Linked DNA regions of Homo sapiens: all the other regions are linked to region 5. The links come from fine-mapping of genetic effects on gene expression. A gene starts in region 5. Each other region holds a variant in brackets. All regions are shown on one strand. Distances are from middle to middle.

What was found. PIP is the estimated chance that this variant, and not a neighbour inherited with it, causes the effect.
Region 1: its variant is the best candidate, but not a certain one, in a credible set for the expression of PTK2B in esophagus muscle (GTEx, PIP 0.84).
Region 2: its variant is the best candidate, but not a certain one, in a credible set for the expression of PTK2B in whole blood (INTERVAL, PIP 0.85).
Region 3: its variant is the best candidate, but not a certain one, in a credible set for the expression of PTK2B in atrial appendage (GTEx, PIP 0.72).
Region 4: its variant is the best candidate, but not a certain one, in a credible set for the expression of PTK2B in whole blood (TOPMed, PIP 0.57).

What each region holds. Positions count from the first base shown.
Region 1 is chr8:27,405,989-27,410,988 of GRCh38, forward strand. The region is part of intron 2 of PTK2B (protein tyrosine kinase 2 beta); the gene reads left to right. Among named protein-coding and RNA genes, the nearest start is that of MIR6842, 25 kb to the right of the region's middle. The variant A/G (reference allele first, on the strand shown) is at 1,971.
Region 2 is chr8:27,437,556-27,442,555 of GRCh38, forward strand. PTK2B (protein tyrosine kinase 2 beta) reads left to right here. Exons shown (of 31, transcript NM_173176.3): 18 at 210-325; 19 at 1,476-1,576; 20 at 1,754-1,843; 21 at 2,682-2,886. Among named protein-coding and RNA genes, the nearest start is that of MIR6842, 6.7 kb to the left of the region's middle. The variant T/C (reference allele first, on the strand shown) is at 2,624.
Region 3 is chr8:27,367,354-27,372,524 of GRCh38, forward strand. All of the region lies in intron 1 of PTK2B (protein tyrosine kinase 2 beta), which reads left to right. Among named protein-coding and RNA genes, the nearest start is that of PTK2B, 44 kb to the left of the region's middle. RefSeq lists an enhancer at 3,296-3,365. The variant A/G (reference allele first, on the strand shown) is at 2,684.
Region 4 is chr8:27,395,654-27,400,799 of GRCh38, forward strand. PTK2B (protein tyrosine kinase 2 beta) reads left to right here. Exons shown (of 31, transcript NM_173176.3): 2 at 1,895-2,135. The coding sequence starts at 1,932. Among named protein-coding and RNA genes, the nearest start is that of MIR6842, 35 kb to the right of the region's middle. The variant C/T (reference allele first, on the strand shown) is at 3,247.
Region 5 is chr8:27,322,488-27,327,658 of GRCh38, forward strand. It overlaps PTK2B (protein tyrosine kinase 2 beta), which reads left to right and starts at 3,065. Exons shown (of 31, transcript NM_173176.3): 1 at 3,065-3,194. RefSeq lists enhancers at 3,110-3,259, 3,310-3,359, 3,965-4,794, 4,140-4,209 and a silencer at 4,952-5,148.

The sequences.
Region 1 (5,000 bases), 83 kb after region 5:
AATGATTCTCTCACATTTCTGGAGGCCAGAAGTCCTAAATCAAGGTGTCAGCAGGGACTCAGTTCTCCTGAAGGCTCTAGGGGAGGATCTCTCCTTGCCTGTCCCAGCTTCTGGTAGCTCTAGGCATTCGCAGCTTATGGATACTTCACTCCAACTTCTGCTTCCATCTTCACGTGGACTTCTCCTCTCTCTGTGTCTCTTTTCTGTATCTTTTACAAGGATGCTTATCATTGGATTTGGGGCCACTCAGTCCAGAGTGATCTCATCTTGAGATCCTTAACTTAATTACATTTGCAAAGCCCCCCATTTTTTTTTCCAAATGAGGTCACATTCACAGATTCTGGGGTTAGGACATGGACATATCTTTTGGGGGCCACCATTCAACCCATTATGACCTTCAATTCAGATCATAGTATCTGTCACTGGTACCTCCATTCAGGCACACACAGACCAGTGTACCCAGATGTACAGCAGTGAGTGGGCCTTTTGTCCATTTAAAAGCTTTAATTATGTCATTTTGGGGTATGTGCAGAAGAAAATAGAGACTCACCGAATGTGTGAGTCAGCTCTTCTCCCCAGGAGCCGTTCCACACCTCCTGGAAGTTGGCAGCGGGAAATGTGTAGGGGCCCTTTATAGTTGGCACATTGTCATGGTTCTCACGATGATTGGGGCTGGGGCTTGGCATTTGGTGGGTGGGCTGTTGCCATGGGTGAACAGTCCCATACAACAAAGAATCCTCCTGCCCCAAGTGCCAGTGGTACCCTGTTGAGATTCACTGATGTGAATTAGGAAGCATTATGGTACCATGAATGCTCTGAACCCAGTCCCCATGTGAAAAATAAAACTTTACCTGTCATGTTGAAGCGACACCTGCCCCTCCTGCTCTGAGGCAGGCACTGCATGTCACCGGAAAGAATGGTATAGTAACTGCTTTAAAAGATATTTTAGTAGGGGGACTTTGGGGGGAAAAATCTGTGAAGGCCACCTGGTACTCTCCCAACTGATCTTTATTGTTCTTCATCCCTCCTCAATCTCAGCGTGGCATCAAGAACGCTTCATACGGTTTATGGGTAAATCAGAATTTTTGACAGAATGGTCTCATTTTTAACAGAACATTTTTATTTTTCAGAGACACTTATATTCTGCTCAATATAGTGAGCGGAAAGAAAGGGCCTTCTAAAGAAAAGGCCTTTTGTTAACCTTTTCAGCCTTTTTTCTGCCTTCTCAGAACTCTACTTCCCGTCTTCACACACAGCAGAAGGTGCAAGGGAAGAGCCTGCTATCCAGGCCCTGGGAACATAAAACCCTTCATGATTCTCTTGCTCCAAACAGGAGGAAGTCATTTTTCTTTGCCCTGGGAACATAAAACCCTTCATGATTCTCTTGCTTGAAGCAGAAGGAAGTCATTTTTCTTTGCATTGTTCATCCCAGTCACTGGCATGGCCGGATCAGCCGTGGTCATGACCTGATCATCCTATGAGGCTCCTTGACTGCACTTCACCCACCTGCTGCTGGTGCTGGCTCCAGCTCACAAAGGGCCTCAGATCCCTTTCTTCAGGGATTGCTTCCTTCAACCACCTGTACCCCTCTATAGGGCTCAGCCTTTGGAAGAATTTAGAGCCACTACTGGACAGGTGCTCCCGGGAGGTGGGTCTCCCCAGGTGCCAGTTCCCACCCAGTCAGGGGAGTCAGAGGAACCTCTGGCCCAAGGACCCCGAACTCCATTTCCAGCTCACATCTTCATGTCTTAATTCTAGACTTCTTGGGTTAATCAACTCCTCAGGTTGACTTGACCCTTGAGCCATGTTCATCCTTCCCCCCTTACCCATCACAATGCTAGCTACCATTTTTTGAGCACCTGCTCTGCACCTACCATTGTGCTAAGCTCTTACGTGTCTGTAACCCACATAAAGCCAGTCAGTTGTTCTGACCTTGAAGCCAGTCTCAGTACAGCATCACATTCCAACAT[A/G]TATTAGTCTGCCATCTAAAAATAACTGGAAATCCATTTAAATCTTTACTGTAATCTCTTTGAGGGAGAGAACTGTTGGGGCTCAGAAAACAATATCCCCAAATGAAGGCCTCAGCAGCAGCCTCAGAAGCAAAAGTTTTTCTCTGACTTTCTCCTGCCCCCTGTCTCTCAGCCCCACTCTCCCCCGAGGTGCCATAGAAACTAGGATTGTCTTCCCCAAGGTGGGTCATAGAAACCAGAACCTCTTTTCCCCCACAGAAATCCGGCCATAAAACCTAAAAGTATTCCATGTAAAAACAGGCCATAAAGAAATTATCTGACCTACATTGTTGGACTATAGGTCATAAGGCCTTGATTCCAGAGAGGGCCTGCCCTGCACCCAGCAGGAAGGAACACTGCTCAGAGAGGCCCAGAAGAATCTAGACAGACAGGCCTGTCTGGGTTTCCCCACTCAGCCTGTCAACATTAGATCAGACCCTTCTCCTCCAATCATATTTCTACATGACTGTCCATTGTTTGCTAAACCTAAGCATAAAAATGGACAATTTCTCCTCTATTTTTGGGTCTTCATTCTGAAGGTACCTGTGTATGCATATTAAGTAAATTTGTATGCCTTTTCTCCTTTAATCAATCTGCCTCATTTCAGTGATTTTTTTCAGTGAACCTTTAGGAAGCCAAAAGCCTTGGCCCCCACAGGGGATATCACTGGGGGATCGCTGTCCAGATAGGTAGTAAAATTTATTAAAATTCTCATAACCGTATACCAATTAAAAGTAAAACAACTGTCTGTGTCTGTCTAACCCAAGGTCAGACATGGAGCATTGTTTTAGCTCTAACTGGTCAATGTCTGTATTAGTCTCCTAGGTCTGCTTTAACAAAGCACCACAAACAGAGTGATGTGAAACAACAGAAAGGTATTGTATCACAGTTCTGGAGGCTAGAAATTAAAGATCAAGGTGTCAGCAGGGCCCTGCTCCCTCTGAAGTCCATAGGGGAACCCGTCCTTTCCTCTCCCTGGCTGGTGATTCGCCAATGGTCTTTGACACTCCTTGGCCTGCAGCTGCATCACTCAAATCTTGCACCATCTCCCCGTGTGCATGTCTCTCTCTGCATTCACACTTCCCCCTTTTTTAAGGACACCAGTCATTTTAGATGACAGCCCACCCGAATGACCTCATTTTAACTCGATTAGTCTGTAAACACTCTATAAAGTCCTGCGCTAAGGCACTAGAGGTTAAGATTTCAACATATCCTTTTGGGGAACCACAATTCAACCCATATGGTATCTTACTAGATAGATGTATAAAGTTTTTTGGAATCCAGGGGAAGAAACAAAAACCTTATCACAGGGAGTCAGGGAAGGCTTCCCAGGGGCCCTCATAGTGCTCTCTGGGCCTTAAAGCATAACAGGGAGCTCACCAGGAGGAAAGGACAAGGGGGAGAGGGGAGCCAGGGGTCCCCCAGGCAGGAAGAATTAAATGTGTTCAGCACAGAGGAAAGCAAGAGCATGCTGTGTTGGGGGCGAAGAAAGAGAGCAACTTTGGAGACCAGGCACAGAGCACATTGTGGGTACAGAGGGGATGGGACTGGAAAGAACATGTGGGAAAAAAACCCAAAGGGAGATTTACGCCTTGTGTTCATTAGTTTGGGTCTTATCTGATTGTACAGAAAATGAGGAACCAATGAGAGATTTTCCACCAAAATCACCTGCATTGATTTTGTCCTCAACCTCAGAGTGACACCTTCTTAAATAAAATGTAAGCAAGACTTATTTTTATTTTTGAGACAGTTTTACTCTTGTGGCCCAGGCTGAAGTGCAATGGTGCGATATCAGCTCACTGCAACCTCTGCCTCCGGGTTCAAGTGATTGGCCTTCCTCAGCCTCCCAAGTAGCTGGGTTTTATAGGCATGCACCACCATGCCAGGCTAATTTTTGTATTTTTAGTAGAGGCAGGGTTTCACCATGTTGGCCAGGCTAGTCTCGAACTCCTGACCTCAGGTGATCCTCCTGCCTCGGCCTCCCAAAGGGCTGGGATTACAAGTGTGAGCCACCATGCCTGGCCTAAGACTTTTTTTCAACAAAAGCTTAAGTGTAGTTTATTTATTAAAATGTTAAGTATAGTCATCTTACTAAAACAAACAAACAAAAAAGAATACTTTGAAAAGAGTAAGGAGGGTGAATTGAATTAAGCCTGGGAAGCAGTTTGCAAGCCACTGTCCCAGGTGGGGTTCCTGGGAAGCAGACCTGGGTGGGAGGCTTGCATTGGAGGAAGCGTGTTGATGGGAGCTCCCAAGGCACACAGCTAGTGGGAGGGAAGAAAGCAGGATGGGGCAGAGGAAAAAGTTGGGCTGCGATGCAGCCACAGCAAAGGCCTCAGCCCATTCCACTGGAGCCTTAGAGCCAGAAGAGCTGTCCCAAATCAGGATGAAAGGACATAGGTATTATGTGTGTTCACCAGTCACTCAATATGGATGGCCCCTAGGAAAGGTGTGACCTTAGGCAAGGGCCACTCTTTGAGTGAGAGCAATCCTGGTGGAGGACAGTGGGGGACTCAGCTGTCATGTTGTTTTCAAAAACCCAGCCACTAACATCAAACATGTTTAATAAGCTTATTAAGAAAAAAGCCAAAAAGATTAGGTATTTTATTAGAAATAGGTGAGCCTGAGAAAATAGTGAGACAATAGAGATCACTGAAGAAAGTTATAAATGGATGAGCACTGACAAAAGAGAAGGAAAGTGAGCTGAGTAATTAATTCATTCAACCACCTTTTCCTTTTTGGAAGTAGATTATCCAGAGCACAGAGACAAGCCATCCGGTCCTGTTGCTTCTTTGTTTCTGACCTATAGGAAGAAAGGCCAGAGAATAGGGAGAGAGGCAAAGGTAGTTTGAAGTCTTTACGCTATTTGATAAAGCAACTAAATCAGTGTTAGCCAAGCAGGAGGAAAAGCTATAGACATTTTAATGTTTGCAAGAAAGCATTCAAAGGTTCTTAATAACCAGGCTGTGAGCCATGGGCAGTCGGAGAGCC
Region 2 (5,000 bases), 110 kb after region 5:
AGCCCATTCCTCCCAGCTTCCTGACTTCTGTGTTCCACTGAAATAAGCCAGAGGCCCTGTTTGTCAAGGAAATTGCTGGAACATTTTGCCAGCTTTGGGTTTGTCTCCCACCGCCCCCAGGGAAGGGTCAGGGGTTGCCAGCACCCTGGTCCCCTGGCTCCATACTGGGACCAACCAGGGGTCTTGATGGCACCTCCCCATTCCTGCAGCTGGGCCACTACCTGGAGCGGAACAAGAACTCCCTGAAGGTGCTCACCCTCGTGCTGTACTCACTGCAGATATGCAAAGCCATGGCCTACCTGGAGAGCATCAACTGCGTGCACAGGTAGGGGTGGAGGGAGTGGCCAGCGGTATGGAAGCCAGGCCTTCACCAGATCCTCAAGGCCTCTGGGTAGAAGCAGGGCTTGTGGGTGACACAGAGCAGTGTTGGAATCCCAGCAATTGGCCCAGCAGCTTTGAGCACTTGAGCAACCTCTCTGACCCTGTGTCCTCATCTGTAAAGTTGCAGGCACTGTATGTACCTCATGGGGTTGTTACGAGTAACTCTGAAGTCCGAGGTGTCTGTCTATATATCAAGACCTTCTAGCCCCTCCCCTGTGAGTGCCAGGAAATCGCCCCCAACCTTGCTCAGAGCTTGCTCACCTCCAGCTCCCTGGCTTGGTGGCACATGGCCCAGGAAGAAGGGACTGGGCTGGAGCAGGGCCAAGAAGATCCTGGGGTCCTAGGCCAGACATCACCCTGGTTGCCGACACCCCTGGGCTGCCAAATCCAAGTCTCCCTGTGGCTGTGGAGTTGGCCCCTGCTTTACCTGGCTTTGTTCCCATTCCCTGCCATGAGAACCTGACCCCCAAGGGAGTCAGTGGTTGGGCATTACCCACCATTGACATTGGCTCTGTGGCCTTGTGCCTGACTCAGGGTGTGTGAAGCTCTCATGCGATCCTGGTATCCTAAGTGCCCCATCAGAGTTAGCTGTGCTGCCGCTGCCACTCCTGCTATACCAAAGACCTAACCAGTCCTGTGGAAATGCAGATGAGAGAGAATACCTGTGTTCAGGGAAGTGGTTGGAGTTTATCCTTGAAGAATCACCAGGTGACAGCCTCCCTGGCATGGGGGACAGTGTAGGCAACAGCACAGAAGTGGAGTGTAGCAGATGCCAGGAATCTGAGCCAGGCTTCAAGCTGGAGATGGATGAAGGGGTGATGGGAGACAGAGCCCAACAGCAAGAGGGAAGGAGATGGCAAAGCACCTGTGCATGTTGGGGTGCAGAGGGGCCAGCTGGGCTCCCACCTGAGGTGTGCTGTGGCAAGACCACTCGATGGGGGCAGTGACCCACAGAAGCTGCCCGATTCTGCTCTGGAGTCCGAGTCCCTGGCTTAGATTCTTGGTCTCTTTTTCCATCTGTCTGTCCATCTCTCTGTTCCTGCTCCCATGGGGGTGGGCAGTGCCTCATCCTGGTCTTGATGCCCTTCTTCCAGGGACATTGCTGTCCGGAACATCCTGGTGGCCTCCCCTGAGTGTGTGAAGCTGGGGGACTTTGGTCTTTCCCGGTACATTGAGGACGAGGACTATTACAAAGGTGAGGGGGCTTCCCAGCCTCTGCATTGGCCTTGGAGGGGTCGCTGAAGCCAAAAATTCCAGAAGAAGGAAGTCTACAGTTGGACAGCCCAGGCTAAGGGTCTTCAGAAAGTAGGATGTATTTCTGGATAATTCTGATCTTTCTTCCCTAAAAATCAACCTCTTTGCCCACCCAAAGCCTCTGTGACTCGTCTCCCCATCAAATGGATGTCCCCAGAGTCCATTAACTTCCGACGCTTCACGACAGCCAGTGACGTCTGGATGTTCGGTGAGTGCTGATTTGGGAGGGCATGAAAAGGTGTTCAGATTCTCACTTCTGAACCAGGCTAAGGGGGTGGGTGCAGGGAGCAGGGGTCTGACCTCCACCCTCCGTTCCCAGGGTTCTATTTTGCTGTGGCCACTGAGAAGTCTCAGAGGTGGGGAGGCCAGTAGGGGTAGGAAGGGGAGTGACCCAGGCTAAGGACTGGCCTGGGCTGTGCAGGCTCATCTTCCTGGAAGAGGCTCTTGTGACATGTGTGCTCCACCTACCAGCCCCAGAAACTAAGACGAAACTCTGTGACTTATTCTGAGAGAGGTACAGGAAGGAGAGAGAGCAAAGGCAGGTGTAGAGAGACAGCCCCTTACGGAACACCTCCTGCAAACCATCTCACTTAGTGCTCCCACAGCCAACCCTGTAGAACATTATTATTACTCTCATTTTCCTGTTACGAAAACTGAGGCTCAGATGAGTCAGGAGCCTGCCCGCAATCACACAGGCACCAAGTGTTGGTGCGAGGCTTCCATTTCCAGCTTTACTAAGGAGTGGCTCCCCTCCCTCCTAAGAGAAGACACTTGTGGTCCCAATAGCATGCCATGACTGCCACCTCTTGATCCTGCAGCACCCTGACAGGGGTCTAGCGAGCAAGGCCTTAGGTCACTTACTGCAGAGGTAGGTCACTTGTCCCTCGGGCAGACCACCATGGTAGGCAGGACCCCAGGGTGCTGGAGGAGGAGGAGGGACCGCAGGAGCTGCTCCTGGTGGAGACTGAGTGCTAATGGCGATGGTGCT[T/C]CTGGGTGGGAGGGACTGGTCTCCCCCACCCAGGGCCTGACGCTCCCTTACACCCCAGCCGTGTGCATGTGGGAGATCCTGAGCTTTGGGAAGCAGCCCTTCTTCTGGCTGGAGAACAAGGATGTCATCGGGGTGCTGGAGAAAGGAGACCGGCTGCCCAAGCCTGATCTCTGTCCACCGGTCCTTTATACCCTCATGACCCGCTGCTGGGACTACGACCCCAGTGACCGGCCCCGCTTCACCGAGCTGGTGTGCAGCCTCAGGTGAGCATGGAGTGTGGGCTGTGGGCTGGGGGCCCACCCGGCTGCACCAGGGAGCAAGACCAGCACACAGAGAGGTTTGCACCACATCTCCCTAAAGAAGACGGGCCAGGGTCAAGGACAGGAGGCTGAAGCCAGGTTCACTGTCAGATATGAGCTCAGAGATAAGGCAGCCGTGGGGAAGCCTGACTCATCTGGGCATCTGTCAACACAGAGCACAGAGCCTTGTTCAAAGGATGTGCTCAGAAAATATTTTCTAGGTTAGACTCAAAAGCCTGAGCCAGACTCTCATCGAAGTGCCTGTGCTCTTTGTGATGTTGAGGCATCCTACCTGCTTTCCTCTCGCCTTGTCTCTCGACTTTGATCTTTCCTCCCAGATAGCAAGGAAGGGAGTGATCTTTGACCTGTTTTCAAGACTATGACCCAGGGGCCACCTCTCCCTTCTGAATGGGGGATAAGGGACCTGAGGGCCCGTCGGTGCCCAGGAGCCATGATTCCCTAGGTCTGGGGAGGTCACTGGGGAAGAAGGTCATCTGTTTCAGAGGTTCAGGGTCCCCCAGTTTTCTTGGTGGCAAGCCTGCCATTAGCCCTCCTGTGGGAGATCTGACTTCTTTTGGTTTCCTCTGGGGTGGGAGTCAGTAAGCATTTTCTATAAAGGGCCAAATAGTAAATATTTGGGGCTTTGCTGTTTATGCAAGTCTCTGCCAAAACTGCTAACTCTCTTAGCTCAAAAACAGCCACAGACAATACATCGATGAATGGGTGTAGCTGGGCTCCAGTGAAACACCATTTTGGATGCTGAAATATGAATTTCAAATAAGTTTCATGTGTCATGAAATATTTTTTGTCTTTTAATTTTTTTCAGTCATTGAAACAATGTGAAAACCATTCTTCATTTGGGTCCATACAAAAATAGATGAAAGGCCAGATTTTCCCTCTGGGCGCTTATTTGCTGAACCCTACTTTAGGGAGTCTGGAACTTAATTGACTTGAAAAATATTTTTAATACTGTACTTTAATACTGATTTTAAATACTGTAGTCAACATGTTGCCTTGTTTGATTTTAGGGCAAGTAAACAGTCCCTGAAAACTGCCTGGTGGGGAGGCACCCCAGGGGATGCCAGCAATGCCCAGGCCAGGGGCACTGAGGGTGACCCTGCATGTTTTCTGTGGGGCAGGGCCTTCAACATCATCTGTAAAACCTCTGGCTTAAAAGGCATCTCTGTTCCTCTCTATCCCTTCAGTGAGCCTCCCAGTTAATTCTAGACTCCTGTGTTGGTCCCTTGTATGGGAGGTTTGAGAAGTCAAAAGGCTGCAGGATAAAAGTATTTGAAGGATGTAATTTGGGAGGTTAAAAGCCCTGGGGGGATGGAGCTGGGAGTCCTGATTCACTCTGAGGCCTTGAGAGCCACAGGGAGCTGTGCAGGTGTCTCTCCTGGGCTGAGAGGTGTTCCCATCATCTCCTGGGCTGAGAGGTGTTCCCATCAGAGGCATCGACCAGGCCTCTGCCACAAGTGGAGGTGGGAGCAGGTTTCTGGTGTGATCTGGAAAACACTGAAAGACTCAGAAGACCCCAGGTTGCTTCCTCAGACCACCACCTGACTCTTCCTCCTTAGAGTTCAGAAGGGATTTGATCAGTGTTTCCTAACCGTTCCAGGGAGGAAAGGCCCTTCTAATGTCAAATTTTGAGTGTCTCTGTGTAACAATAGTTATATTTTAAAAATCTTTTGCTGAACAAAATGTAGTGGGCTATATAATGCATTTTTATTATACATAATAAAATATATACACACTTGAAAATATAGTATCAAGTGTCACATATTCAGTAGTATATAATACTTGCTACCCATATGAACATGTGGATTCATGGGCAGTAATAATTCCAGAGTCCTCTGGGGTCTGTGATTCCAGGTTAGGAGCACTGGATTGGGTAAGAAAGGTGAGAGGCGCGCACATGGCTAGCCTGGGAGTGAACCCACATGCCTCATTAGCACATACCGGGGATGCGTTGGGGGATGTTTCATGAGAAATAGGAGATGTAGATTCTAGGCCAGGGCCATGAAGTTGGCTGGGACTTTGGAAATCTACATAGGGGTTTGGTGCCAATCACAAGCCCA
Region 3 (5,171 bases), 45 kb after region 5:
AAGTCCATCTGGACTGGTCCTGCTGGGGATGGTGAGGGACTGAACAGCCCAGGTGCGGGGTGTCTGGGCTTGCCCACCTGTCCATGTTTAGCCAAGTGTCCATTTCAACAAGGAGGAAGGTGACAGGCCCCCAGGACGATGGCCTCTCTCCTCAGTCACCCCAGGTCAGTCCCCAGCAAATGCAGTGGGGCCTTGATGGGGAAAGTCCTTTCAGGGTTTGTATCAATTTCTTTGCATTGTTGTAGCAGAATATCAGAGGCTGGGTAATTCATAAAGAAAAGAGGCTTAATTGGCTCATGGTTCTGCAGGCTGTGCAAGCATGGCACCAACATCAGCTTGGCTTCTGGTGAGGCCTCAGGAAGCTTCCAATCATGGCAGAAGGGAAGAGGAGCTGGCATCTCAAATGGCAAGATAGAAGCAGGGGAGGTGCCAGCCTCCTTTTTAAACAATCAGATCTCACATGAACTCATTAAACTCATTACATGGGGAAGGCACCATGCCATTCATAAAGGATCCACCACATGACCCAAACACCTCCCACCAGGCCCCACCTCCCACACTGGGAATCACATTTCAACATAAAATTGGAGGGAACAAACATCTAAACCGTATCAGGGTCTCTGATTCCACAAGAGCCAGGGGACAAAGCAGGCCCCACGGAATAGGGTGCTGTGGAGTCAGGCCCAGGCTGGCCTGCTTTGGGGATGGGATGGGCCTCTGTGGGCCCAAACCCATGCTGCCCTTGTTAGCAGACGCCAGATGGCCTAGGACCGTCCTTTCTCTCTGCCATGGAGTGAGTGCGGGACGGACGGGTGGCTCCTGTTAGAGCTGATGCTTACATGGGTGAGGGAGGGGAACGGCTATGTCCCCAAATATCCTGCTCTCTTTGCTTTCCTTCCACTGACAAGGACTCCCTCCTTGACCGAACCTTAGGCAGGCTCCTCTGAGCCCTCTTTTTGGCTCCCCCACCCTGCTCCTTGGCCTGCTAAGCTCCAGAAAGTCCAGCAAGAACTACCCCCTCACCCCCTACCCCGCCACCATCACTACCTCACCAAATTCCCCTTGGTATTCATCCCTCCACTGACTCCCTCACCTTGCCCACTGGCTGTGAATCCCCAGCTGTTCCCCTTGTGGTAGGAATTGAGTTCAATCTCCCTCCCCTATTGGAATAGTCTTGGCCCTATTGCAATAAACTGGAAACAAGGCTTCCTGCCTGATTAACTTCACCTGGTGTGATTTTGCTCCTGCTTACATGTGCAATCACACACAAGCTCTTAACACAGACACTTAGCAAACCCTCTGGTTCCATCCCATTATCTCATTGTCTCTTCTGCTCCCAGCAACATTGCTTGAAAAGGGTATTCAGGTCCAGGGAGAAGGAAGCCACCTGTCCCACTTGGCCATGGAGCTTCTGTCCAGGAACACTGACCACTCTTGCTGGGGCCTGGAGTGACGGCAGGGCCACACTCTGCTCTGTCATGTGCCTGCCCTGGGCCCCGGAGACCCTGGAAAGAAGAACTAGGGCTGCCTTGGGCTAGGAAGGAGGAAGCAGGGGTGGGCAGGGCGGAAGTGGAAAGAGATCCAGGAGTGTCTCCCCTCTCAGGACCTCTCTCACTCCAGCCCTTGTGAAGGGCTGTTCTAACCTTGTTCCCTCAGCAGCAGTCTCTGTCATCAGAGGCATTTCTCAGCATCTCTATTTTGGAGCTGCAGCTGGTTGCTTCTCAGAATAAACAGAGCTGTGATATTATGTTGAAAGCAGAATGGAATAACATCTCTTCCTTATGCCCTCCCTCTTCCCCATGTTTTCCAACCTCCACTTCCCTCTTCTTAAAGGCCTTGCCCTAAGACCTCTTCCTCCACACCCCCTGCCCTACAGCTTACCTTCTACCCTCTTATAATCACAGGATCCCTTCACTGGCATGTAGGGGGACCTGAGATGACCAGGCCCTGTGCTGGGCCTGGGGGATCCAGGGGTTTCTATCTGCAAAGAACCCAATGCCAAGTGACACAGGAGTTCATGTATTAAGAACTTAAGGCTTAGTGTGGTGACTCACGCCTATAATTCCAGCACTTTGGGAGGCCGAGGAGGGTGGATCACCTGAGATCAGGAGTTCGAGACCAGCCTGGCCAACATGGTAAAACCCCATCTCTACTAAAAATACAAAAATTAGCCAGGCGTGGTGGTGGGTGCCTTTTGTCCCAGCTACTGGGGAGGCTGAGGCAGGAGAACTGCTTGAATCCAAGAGGCAGAGGCTGCAGTGAGCCGAGATCGTGCCACTGTACTTCAGCCTGGGTGACAGAGTGAGACTCCATCTCAAAAACAAAAGAACTTAAGTCAAGGCTGAGTGTGGTAGCTCATGCCCGTAATCCCAGCACTTTGAGAGGCCAAGGCAGGTGGATCACCTGAGGGCAGGAGTTTGAGACCAGCCTGGCCAACATGGCAAAACCCCCTCTCTACTAAAAATATAGAAAAACTAGCAAAGCATGGTGGCATGTGCCTGTAATCCCAGCTACTCGGAAGGCTGAGGCAGGAGAATAGCTTGAGCTCAGGAGGCGGAGGTTGCAGTGAGCTGAGATCACACCACTGCACTCCAGCCTGGGTGACAGAGTGAGACTCCATCTCAAAAAAGAAAGAAAGAACTTAAGTCAGAGATTATCAGAGCTGGTCCAGCATTCTGCTTCA[A/G]TGAGGCAACTGAGGTCTCCATTGAAGATGTGTTGGGCTCAGGGTCTCAGAGCTCTTGGGAGTTCAGGTAGGAGCCATAACACTCTGTGCAGTTTTCCTCGTACCTGGCTATATCATTATCAGAACAGCTGTGTTGTATTGAAATCAGTGAAAGGGAGCTCGATGCTGCAAGAGACAGAGAAATCAGACCATTGTTTGTCTTGGACAAAGCAGATGTGCACTACCCAGTGGATTTATGGACTGAGATGGCTTCTAGGAAGAACAGGGCAATCAGAGATGCTTTCCGGATACCAGAGGGTGGGAAGGTTTAATCATTAAGGAGCAAATGAAGAGACATGTATATGTGGCCACATTCAAGACCACGTTATTAGCTTACTCTTTTGTAAACCAGTAAGTCTGACAGTGTGTGAAGGCCCAGGCATATCACTCACCTCCTCTGTGGTCTATCCAGAGCCCTTCCGTTACGGCCTTCATCCTTTCCCTCTCTTGTCCCTTACCTGTGGTTGGTATGATTTCCCTTTTGTAAAATATGCCTAACTCCACTCACCACCCATCCTCTATCTGCTGATCTGCTGTGTAGCTTCATCCACATGAGACTCAAGAGCAATGCAGAATGCAAGGACAGGGAGTTCCTGGAAACTGGGTATGTTGCCTCACGACCTTCTACCCAGGCCCAAGTGTGGTCAGCCTCATCTTGCTCCGTGGTCTCACTTCTCAGCCTGTGCATCAGACCTTTTTCCCCCTGTTACCTGAAAGCAACTCTATGATGAAAAGAGGATGATCTGAGACTTCAGTGGGTTTCCTCTCTTGGTTTTCTCTTATTTTTAAAGAGAAAACTGTGGTGAGACTCTCAAGTTAGTCTTTTTAGTTTATTTTTATTTTTTTTTGAGGCAGAGTTGCCCAGGCTGGAGAGCAGTGGTGCAGTCTCGGCTTACTGCAGCCTCTGCCTCCTGGGTTCAAATGATCCTTCCACCTCAGCCTCCCAAGAAGATGGGGCTACAGGTGCTCGCCACCACACCTAGCTAATTTTTATATTTTTAGTAGAGACCAGGTTTTGCTATGTTGGCCAGTTGGTCTCAAACTCCTGGCCTCAAGTGATACACCCGCCTCAGCCTCCCAAACGCTGGGATTACAGGCATGAGCCAACACATCTGGCCCCAAGTTAGTCTTTATAAGCCCCAGTGGAATGTCCAGGAGTAAAGCTGTCAGCCTGGGGGTAGCTTGGGCTTGCTGAGCATTGAGGGAGCTACACAGAGGGCATTCTTGCCGGCTGAGAGAGTTGTGTTGTGAATGCCAAGGTCGGCGGCTGGAGGTGGGCCTGGTTCTTCCATGCACACTGGGAATGGGCATAGCGTGAAGAATGTGAGTTTTGAACTCAAGGGACTTGGAGGTATGTCTCAGCTCTACCATTTCTTAGCTCTGTTACCTTGGGCTGGTTATTTATTGTTCTTGAGATTCCATTTTCTCATCTGTAATATGGGAATATAAACAGAATCTATTTTTATTATTTATATATATATATATATTTTGAGACAGAGTCTCACTCTGTCATCCAGGCTGGAGTGCAGTGGCACAGTCTTGGCTCACTGCAACCTCCGCCCTCTGAGTTCAAGCAATTCTCCTGCCTCGGCATCCCAAGTAGCTGGTATTACAGGCATGCACCACCATGCCCTGCTAATTTTTGTATTTTTAGTAGAGATAGGATTTCACCATGTTGGCCAGGCTGGTCTCGAACTCCTGACCTCAGGTGGTCTGCCTACCTTGGCCCTTCAAAGTGCTGAGATTTCAGGCATTAGCCACCATGCCTGGCCAACAGAATCTATTTTAAAGAAGAGTTCACTTCCTGATTTCAGGAGTAATCTACTGAGCACCTCGTGTGTGCCAGGCACCGATCCAGGCAGAGGCGCATGGCCTGGGAAGTACCAATATGACGCTTGAGCTAGGGACACTCATATGTTCTGCAAGGGGAACAGGGTGTTATGTGGATTGCATAAGAAAGCATATATGCATTGCTTAACCCCATGCCTGATACATACAAAGCACTTGATAAACAGTAGTTGCTATTGTGACTATATTCAACACTAGAAATATGATATAAATGTGGTCAGTGAGCCAGAAGAGGAGTTTCATTTGATAAAATCTTCAGTTTCTTCCTCAAAGGCGTAACTGTCTTTTAATTAAAGGGAGTGTATTAGTCCAAGTTCCCCAGAGAAACAGAACAGACAAGATGTAGAGATGTCTATAAAGAGATTTATTATAAGGAATTGGCACACAGGAGTATGGAGACTGGCTAGTCCCAAGATCTGCAGTCGGCAGGCTCAAGACCCAGGAAGAGTTAATGTTTCAGTTTGATTCTGAAGGCAAGAAGAAGCTGGTGTCCCAGTTGGAGGGTCCTCAGGCAGGAGGAATTCCTTCTTACTCAGCAGGGGGGTCAGCCTTTTGTTCTATTTAGGCCTTTAACTGATTGTATGAGGCCCATTCTCGTTAG
Region 4 (5,146 bases), 73 kb after region 5:
TAAGAGTGGTGTATAAATACCCCAGATCCCTCCCTCTCTGGGTGGGGTCCATTCTTTCCTGGCTCCTAGAGTTCCCAGTAGGATTAAACTGTGGTTGTGCAAGCGATAACTCACTTGATCACTCTTATTAGCTGTTTTCCCCTCCCTGTCATCATTTCTCTGATGTTTCCTGGGGTTACCTCTCAAACGACTTCCCCCTGGATTCCTTGTTGAAGGTCAGGGGATCCGGGTTACATCTTCACTACATAGCAGAGTATTGACACACAGGACATGTCCAGCAGATGTTTGTTGGAAAATGGTATGGATACCTCTAGAATAGACAGATACTTCCAGAATATATATATATCTTTTAGATAAGAATATATATATCTTAAAGCAGATTGCATATTCTTCTCTCCATAGGTCTTATGCCACATTTTGCTGCCCTTGTGGACTCTGAGCTTGGTGCTGCCTGTTGTCTGCCTGCCCCTGACCTGAAGGACATGCCCAGCTCCTTCTCTCATCCTTGCCTCTCTTTTGCATCTTCGTAATACATATTCACTTTTTAAAAAAGGAATGGCTCTTTGAAGCTAATGGCTATCTAAATCTTTCTTTTCTATTGTCCAGCACAGTGTGAATAAATACATACAGGCTATGATTCCACTTTTCAAATGTGTGACTCCATGTTCGTGTTTTAACATTGTCAACTCCATCATTTTGCCCCCAACTCCTGGTCAAGGAATTTCCCTCCCTCTAAAATCACAGTCTCTTCTTAGAAAGGGGATATTTTTCTTTAAGAAGGGGTTTCAGGATAAGAGCTAAGCTCGTTCTAGAACAGTGGTTTCCAACCCAGGCCAAACGTTAGAAAAGTCCTGGGAAACGAATATGTCAATGCTCAGCCCAGACCAATTTGACAGCAGTGTCTGAGGTTAGGGCTTGGTTTAGGGTTTCTGAAAGCTTCCCTAGTGATTATGTGGAGCTAAGGCCGATGCCATCCATCTAGAGCTAGAATATCCACTTCTTCCTTTGGGCATTCCCTGCTTTAGATCAGTGGGAGATAAACCCTACTCTACTGAGTTGTATTGGACCTAGAGGCCAGGACCAATGTTGCTGATTCAAGGTGAACTACAGATTCCTAGGATTCTTATCATCTACATCTGTGTCAACCCAGGCTGTCTGCAGAACTGGGCTGGGTTTTCTAGAGTCCCAGCTCAGCTCCTTCCCATGTGCAGCATGCCCTTCCCTGCGGGGCTGCTGGGCAGAGCGCTGTTCCTCTTGAATCCTCCTGCATGTGATCAGTGATGTCTATGTGATGAGCTCCTGTCAGACGGAAGCCTCCCACCCTGAAAGTTTTTGTTGGCAGCTGAGGATGGGGGTGGACAGCATCAGTTGACAGCCTGGCCCTCCACCTGGGCCCTTTCCTGCCTTCTCCATTCCCATTCCCTCGGGGCCACTTCTTCTCCAATCTGTTTCTTCTCAGATTTTCCGCCTTGTCCCTGTTCCTCTCCTGCTATTTTCTACTGTCTCACTCTTTGCTTTTTCTGCTCAGCTGTGCCTTGGAACCAAGCTGTGACCGCCTTCTCTCACAGCTGCCTTTGCTAAGGGTGGGCCCCTTGCCTGGGTGCCAGGGTGGAGGGAGGAATGGGTCAGAGAGAGGGGCTTCCAGGAGACAGAGCTCATACCCCTGGGAGCCCCAAGTCTGGGTTTCATACCTGGATGCTTCTGCAACTTGCCCCTTTCTGCTGCATCTTTCCCAGTCAAGAGAGCCAGGTGCCTTGCAGGGGAGCTTTTGGGAATGGGAGAATATATAGCATTTGTGTCTGTCTTGGAGCTCGGTGGGTGCTGTCCCTGGGGCCATGAGGTATGTGGGCCTGTGTGGGGCTCTTTCAGGGCTGACCCTCTGCTGTCTCTGCAGGACTGCAATGTGCCGATCTTAGCTGCTGCCTGAGAGGATGTCTGGGGTGTCCGAGCCCCTGAGTCGAGTAAAGTTGGGCACGTTACGCCGGCCTGAAGGCCCTGCAGAGCCCATGGTGGTGGTACCAGTAGATGTGGAAAAGGAGGACGTGCGTATCCTCAAGGTCTGCTTCTATAGCAACAGCTTCAATCCTGGGAAAAACTTCAAACTGGTCAAATGCACTGTCCAGACGGAGATCCGGGTAAGTGTGAAGTGTCTGCCCTGTCCATCTGTCTGTCCCTCTGTCTTCTTCCTGGGCAGCTGAGCAGCTCTCCTGCAGCCTCGCAGCTCTCCCATATCCACCCCTGGGTGGAAGAGGTGAGGTGGCATCAGAGAGATGTGCTCAGCCTGCATCACCAGGCCTGCTCTCCAGATGTTCCCATACTACTTCTCTAGGAGCCTGGGAAACACATGTTGTAGCCTTTGCTTGAACCCCAGATAATTTGTTTGGCCTCTGATTCAATTCATTTCAACTTATTAAGTATTTATGATACTTGAAGCTCTGCAAGGGACTTAAAAGCTGCTGTCCTCAAAGAGTTTACACTCTGATGAAATAGGAATTAGAGATACACAAGTGATTGCATTAAAAATAGAACAAAACTGGTATAAGCCTTGTGTGCTGAGCATGTACAGGAAGGCACTGGTGGGGCACTTAGAGGATGACAATGAAGTAGAGGTGCTTTGAGCCAGGTGGAGGGTTAACAGGTGCCCTGCCTGGCAACACGTCCTTTTGCTCACTCCTACCCAGAATCACAACATCTGTTTTGCAGGTCCAGGTACCCACCTTCATCAGGGCACCTGGACACCAGGATGCCAGTTCACCTTAACCAAATGTATATGAGATTGTCATCATAAGCAGAGCTCCAACATGCTGAACTAATTTCAGTCATCTACATTTATTGAACAATTACTGTGTGGAGCCTGGGCCAATCCCTCTACACACATTATTCCATTAAATCTTCCCAGCATCCCCATGAGTAGATACACTGAGGACATACCTTTCCTCTGCCCAGAGCACCCCTTTCTGATGATGGGAGGGAAATCCAGATTGGTTCTCAGGTTGCTTAGTGGGTAATTTGAACAAAGGAAGCAGGAACTTTTGGGAAAGCTAATCAGGTCTGAGGACATGGGATGAGCCATCTCCAGCTCATAGCCAACCTTTCCCATGTCCTGAAAGCCAGTGTCCCTAAACTCCATGAATGTTTCCTTTCGTTAGTACTGCTGTGCCCTGGCCACATCATCCTGGCTGCCTTCCGTCTGCTATAGCACACGCTGTGCTTCCACACACCAGAGCAGAGTGTAATTGATTATGT[C/T]ACTGTCATGGCCAGTTATCACCATTGATTACAGTTTGATTGGCTCTCTCTGTTTCCTGTAACTGATTTGATTAGGGCCTTGTTTGCTCATCTTTCTGATATAAAGGCACAATTGTGTCCTGAGAGTAAGCCCTGGTCATCTTCCTCCAGGAGGATGTTTTCCTCTCTCTTTATCCACTTCATGAGTCTTCCTTTGGGTATATCATTTTTGCAAAGAGCTGATGCCATCCACTGTGAATTTTACTAGTTTAATTTTCAGAAGTTAACCTGATTTCCAAGTTTAGGGAGGAGCACCTCATTGTTCTTTTGTGCTGAAAAACAGAGAGCAGCAGGTTAGTTCATATTAGGACATGTTCCATAGAGTCAGCAGTGAAAAGGGTCCTGAAAAAGAGGTAGGATTTAAAGCAGTGACACTGGGGACAGGAAGAGGCTTTCCAAGAGTGGGGAACAGCATGTCAAAAGGCAGGGAGGCCTCTGAACAGTAAGTAGTTCAGTTTGACTGGAGTATGGATTATATTTAGAAAAGTATCTAAAATCAAGATCAAAAAGGAAAGTTGACAGCAGAGAATGAAGGGCCTAGAATATCAGGCAGAGAAATTTGGAAATGGACAGGCACTAGGGAACAACACATATTTTTAAGCAGGGGCAAGATATTCCTGGAGTTGTATGATATACCCTGCTGGGTGTTTAAGGGATGAAAGTAACACAACAGGCCTATGGAGAAGGCAATGAGACCCAGGCTTAAGAAGAATGGCTTTGAGGCATTATCTGGGGTCGGTGGGGAACAGAGGTGGAGAACAGAAGTGACTGACTTCCAGGAATATGTCCAAGCCTTCTGATTTTTCCTGCTTCCAATGTCTCCTGCAGGCAAAATGCCACCTGCTTATTGCAAATAGCTGAGGGTTTAAAGCCACTTAGACTTCTAGCCAAGTCCTGCTCCATCCTTACTGGTTGTGTGGCCTGGGACCTAATGATTAACTGATCTGGGCTTCAGTCTCTTCACCCGGGGATCATGCTGTAAGGATTGGAGATGGTGGAGGAGAAGCACAAAGCACACAGCAGTGCCCATAACTGGAGGCTATTGACTGTGTGGGTATTAGGTTATTACCCAGCTCAGGAATCTCCAAGGGCCTCTAATTGCCCAGAGAATAAAGTGCAAATTGTCTTCTTTTGGTGTCTATCCAGGTATCTGTCTTATTTTCAAATAAAGAAGTAATATGATCAGATTTGTGTTCTAAAACAACAACATGGTGTTCTGCAAGATGTTAAGAAGTGTGCCCTCGGGAAGGGAATGTGTGGTCAAAAAGATTGGGAAATGTTTGGTTAAACAATTCTGAACAGATTCTTTTGCAATAAGACTTCTCAGAACCTTAAATAGGCTGATATGCCTGGTAAATCACTAAGAAGGGCCACAGAGGTGATATTTTCTTAAATAAACAATTTCTTATTTGCCTAAAAAACCCTCCTTTTAAACCACTAGATCTCTGGCCAATCATTTAGGGAACTTTTTCCCCTAAACTCTGACAGCAGAGAAAAAAGGATTGAATTAAAAAAAAAAAAAAAAACCTGGCCAATGGGAGATGGGTTAGGAGGCTGTGGTCATACTGCAAAAGGAAAATGATGAGGACCTGGACTAAGAGAATGGTGTTGGGAATAGAGATAAATCAACGTAATTGAGTACATCTAAGGAGACAGAGTCAATAGAATTTGATGATTAACTAGATATAGGGAGGGAAAGAAAGGAAGGAGAAAAGGATGACTCAAGCTTTTGCTTGGGCGACTAAATGGGTGTTGGTACTATTCATTGAGATCCAGACAGAGAAAGGGAGGGCATTCTGAGATTTCAGCTTTACATGTGTTGTGTTTAAAGTGTTTATGAAACACCCCCACGGAGGAGCGT
Region 5 (5,171 bases):
ACTATATGGCAGGTATGTATGTACTATCTCCCCATAAAGCTTACTTTAATTGCTATCATTTCTAAAAATTATAGCTATAGAATTTTTCATAGCATTTGTACACCTATCACTTAATTTGGGCTTCACAATACCCTGGGAAACAGGTAGAACAGATAATACTTATTTTTCTACTTTTCTAGATTAGGAAATAAAAGCTCAGAAAGATGGATTCGCATGTCCAAAGTCACAACCTCTTCCCTCTTGACTGGATCCTTCCTGTGAGCATTGAAACCTGCTCTACTGGCTATCATCCTAAATGACAAATCAGTCCTCTTTCAACCCACGACCCCCTCCAATATCCCCTGGTCTCAATTGCCCTTGGCAGTCAAGCTTTCCAGGACTCATCAGCGCGTGCCGCCTCTGTGTCTTCACTTTCAGTTTACTTATCAGCCCACCCCACTTGACCTTTGGCTCTTCATTCATTTGCTCCTGGTAAGAGCTTCACTTGAAGTCCTCTGCTGTCTCTGACTCTTGCCTTAGACAAGTTTATCCATTCTTGTGGTTTCAAATGCCATCCCAAAAGTTAATCACCAGCTCAACCACCTTTGTGATCTCCAGTTAGTGAAAAGATAAGAAAAGAGAACCTGAACCAGGATGGGTCAATAGGACAGGAAAGAAAACGAGGAATAGGAAAAAAGTTTGTGGGACTCCCAGGACTTAGAGATTGGAGATTGCATGGCTGCAGGGTAAGGAGGGAGAGGGAGAGTCAAAGGTGACTTCTCTTTTGTTGACATTCACAGGGAGGGCTGGAACGGGGCTTGTTTGAAGAGCAATATGAGCCAGGGTTATAGACCTGAGTTTGGGGTAAGAGTGGAACATCCAAATGGAAGAGTCCAGCAGCTGAAAGGACATTTGTTCAAAGGCCTTTTTCATTACAGTTTTCTCCTTCTTCTGATCCAGGTATGCATCCCCCCAACACCCCCACAATTAGGGCCTCCCACATGGCACTTGGTCAGCTTGAGATACAGAAGTAGAAGGGAAATATTTTTCTTCTCTAACTGGGGTAGATCATTATTGCAACTTATGCCATATGGAGAGCATCGCCATGGATAGTGTCTTTTAGGGATTTCCATGGAATTTGAGGGCTCCTGAGGCATTTCTGATGGGTTTTTTTAAAAGGCAGTAACAGGCAGAAATGCATGACCTTGTCACCTGAGTTGCTTGTACATGACACTGGACAGAACCTAGGGAGACCTGATGGCGGAGTTGGCCACCCCAGAGAGTTTCTCAATGTCTTTTTCATTTAAAAAGCTATGGGTTTATGATTCTGTGAGGTAGATTTGGGAGATTCTTTTTTTAAAGTGCTGAAGAATTCAACAACCTCTGAAAACTCACCTTTCCCAGAATTGGTCCCAGCAAGATAAGATTGTAGTTCATTTATGTGGCCACACAGGGGCAGCACACACAAACTCTCCTTTTCTTAAACAGGTCTTGATTGTCTTTGCTTTTAGTTCCCACTGCCACCTCCTAGTACAGACTCTCAACAACTCACCCAGGTATCTAACTTTTGTGCCACTCAGCCTTCATCACTTCATTTCCAAGCGCAAGAATACGGAGGGGACACCCACTGTCAGATGCCCTCTGACCATGTCCTTGCCATGTAGTCAATTACCTGCCTCCTCATCCCCACACCTTCCCTGCTAACTTCAGTGTACCTCTGTCTGACTTGCCTCTCCATCCCTGGCCAAGTTCTCCCACCTGACCACCTTCTGACCTGCTGACCGCTGTGTAGTCACCAAGATTACCTCCAAAATGCTGAGTGCTGGGAACGTGACAAATCTGTGAATAGCACAAATGGGAAGGGGTGGGGGGGCTCCAGCTGTCAAGGCTGGCAGTGCCCATCAATGGGTTGTGAGCCCCATGCTGGGCAGGTGGGCCCTAGCTGCAGAGAGTCTGATCTTCATCGGACCCAGAGTGACATCCAGCCAATAGCTATGGGTAGTCCACTAATTATACTTTGAGAAACATTGACTTCCTAGCTTTGTTAACTTATCTAAGTCTCCAGTTTCTTTTCAGAAATGGGAAGGAGTCAGTGCAATCTTGGAAACTGAGTGCTTCCTCAGCACAACTCCAGGGGGCGCCATTCTCAGAAAGTACATTGTGAATAGCATCCTCTAGAATTGTGCAACAGGGCAGCTCTGGGAATCAGATTCCAATCCTGCACAGGACACAGAATAAAGAAGCTTGGGACAGGGGCTCTGGAGAGGACATTGTAGGATGAGGATGATGCTGCGTACACTCCACTTTTTTCACTTTATGCCAAGTCCAGGTCACTTCCTCCTCCTACTCAGGAGCAAGTCTGGAGTTTTCCTAGGGATAGGGAAGAAGTGTTGCTAAGTGCCCTTGAGTGCCTGCTCACATATCACCGGCCTGAGGAAAGAGGGGACCAGCCTCTGGGCGGGGCCCCTGGAAGGGGCTGTCCAGCATCTCTAACTATTCTTGTGCTGTCCTCAGACCCTACTTAGTCACAGCTCAGGGACCTGGTCTTCTGTGTTCAGGGACCTGGACCGGTTCTGCCAAAATCCCTAGTGGTATTTATGATTTTTCATGCCTGCAAAGGGACTGGGGCCACTTTAGGACATGGAGAGATTAGGACACAAGTGCTCAGTACCATGTAGATATAACATCTCCCACTGCGGGGGGTCTTGGGAGAACCAGCCTGAGAAGTTGGTTTCCTCCGCCCGCCCTGCGCCCCCACCCACCTCACACACACCTTTTGGCCTCCAAAAGGCTGCAGGTGGAGTGGACAGAGGATGGAGGGGTGTTAGGAATTGGGGAGTTAACTGCTCACAAGGGGCACATAACATCCGAGGATCCCATTTGCGGCCGGGGGAATGGCAGAGATCGCCCCCCAGGTCTGCCCGGCGCTCAGGGAATTGGTGGCAGCGTCTATTTCAGAGTTTATGGTAAGAGGCTGGAGCCGGCACACACAGACAACACACCCCACCCTTTAAGGAAGTGGGGAGGAGAGCAGCAGGGGTGTGGTTAACAACTCAGAGGAGGAGGGAGAATCTAACCTGTCAGCCCTTTTACTCAGCCACAGCCTCCGGAGCCGTTGCACACCTACCTGCCCGGCCGACTTACCTGTACTTGCCGCCGTCCCGGCTCACCTGGCGGTGCCCGAGGAGTAGTCGCTGGAGTCCGCGCCTCCCTGGGTGAGTCCCTCCCGCGAGCCAGGGCTGAGCGCTGCGCCCGGCAGAAGTTGGAGGCTTGACCGGGTGGCAGGGGTTGGGGACAATTCCGGGATCCTGGGCACCTGAGCTGGGAGTTCCCGGAGAAACGGCCAGACCCAGGAAATCGGAGCCGTGGGTGCTGTGCACATGCCCGGAGCTCGCCAGCCTTCCGCGGGGAAGAGGGGTTCTATTTTTGGAGTAAATTTGACACTATAGGGTGTTTCTCCCTCTTTGTCCTCTCAACATATTCAGACAGGGGAGGCTGGGGGAGGCTAGGGGTGACGGTGTGAGGGCACAGCCAGGCTGCTGCCTCTAAAGCTCAGGTTAGGGAGCCACGGGGTTTCAGCTCCTGCCCCCGCTCCCCGCTCCCTCCCGGGCCCTTCCGCAGCCCCAGGGGTTATAGTCTCACCCCCAGCCCACCCTGACTCTCCTGCAGCCACTCCTTGCACCTGAGAGGTCATCTTCTGAATCAAGCCCTGGCTGGAGGAAAGCAAGGGTGTTCTGGGGCACAGGGGAGCTCGTGTGTATGTGTGTGTGTGTGTGTGTGTGTGTGTGTGTGTGTAGTTAACACTGGCCATTCTGGTATCTTGAGAAGCCGCCTCCTGAGTGCCACTCAAGGGTTAAGTTCAGAGCTGCCTCTGCCTGCTGTCAGGCTGCGCGTGGGCACCGCTTTGGGTGGGTGAGCGTGGAGCGGCATATGGGTGATGTTCTGCAAGCCCTGCCACCTGCCCTAAGCCTCGACCACATGACACTGGCATCTCCCTATACCCCAAACTGGGAGCAAAATCCAAGTCCGCTCATTTAAGGAGCCAGCAGAAGGACAAGAGCAGAAAGTTGTGCCTAGAGGTGGCTTTAGCCAGGAGGAACTCGGAAGCTGCGCTGTGGCTGGGTCTGAGCCCACTGGGGCAGTGCACGTGGTGTGATGTGGTGGTGGGTGCTGGGAGGCCCCTCTACGTGGGATGCTCTCTGTTCACCCCAAGTGCTGTTGCTGAAGGCCCTGTCTTTCCCAACCACTCTGGGGGAGGGGGAGGAGGACACTGATGAAAAAGTGACTAAAGACAGAAGGGAGGAAGGAAGTAGTCACACTGGAGAGCCCCAGCATTGGTGGGACAGTCTGCAGTCATCCATTCAGGAGGCACTCACTGGCTTCCCACCTGCGGCCAGGTGCAAGGTGTGGGGACAAGGTGAGTGTGGCATGGCCTCTGCTCACCAGGGCAGTGTGGGATACCGGGTGGTTGAGGGAGGGCTGCCAGGGGAAGGTGCAGGGTACTATCCAACCCTGCACTAGAGGGCTGTGGGGGGAGCCAGTCAGCAATGGCCAGGAGGGCGTCCTGGCAGAAGTGACTCCAAATTGAGAGCTGAAGGATGACTAGAAATTAGCACAAGAGAAGAGGGGAAAGAACAGCAAGTGCAGAGACTGGAGGCTAAAAGCAGCAGGAGGCTGGAAGCAGCGGGCGGCATCCAGGAAAATGAAAGTAGCTGGGCTTGTTGGGAACCTAGAGCGTGCAGGGGCGAGGGGAAGCTGCAGGGGTGAGTGGAGACTGCTCTAGAAGGCTTTGGAAGGCCTGCCAGGCTGCCATGGCAACTTCTGTTGGAGCAACACTTGGGACCTGGAGCCAGGCAGGAGACTTCCCAGCAGGAAGAGATTGCCAGATTTAGCCAATAAAAGCACGGGACACTCAGATTTGAATTTCAGATAAGCACTCAATGGTTTTTTTTTTCACTACAAATATGTCTCATGAACTACATGGAACATACTTATACTCAAACATTATTCACTGTTTCTCTGAAATTCACATTTAACTGGGTGTCCTGTATTTATCTGGCAACCCTACTCTAGGAGAAGCTGAGGTTGGCGCAATGCTGTGAAGTAAAGGCTGGAAACTGCCCAGGCACTCTGAGAACAGTCTCAGGTCTATCTTGTAACCATTCCTCCTGGATTTTATTATGAGCTCATTT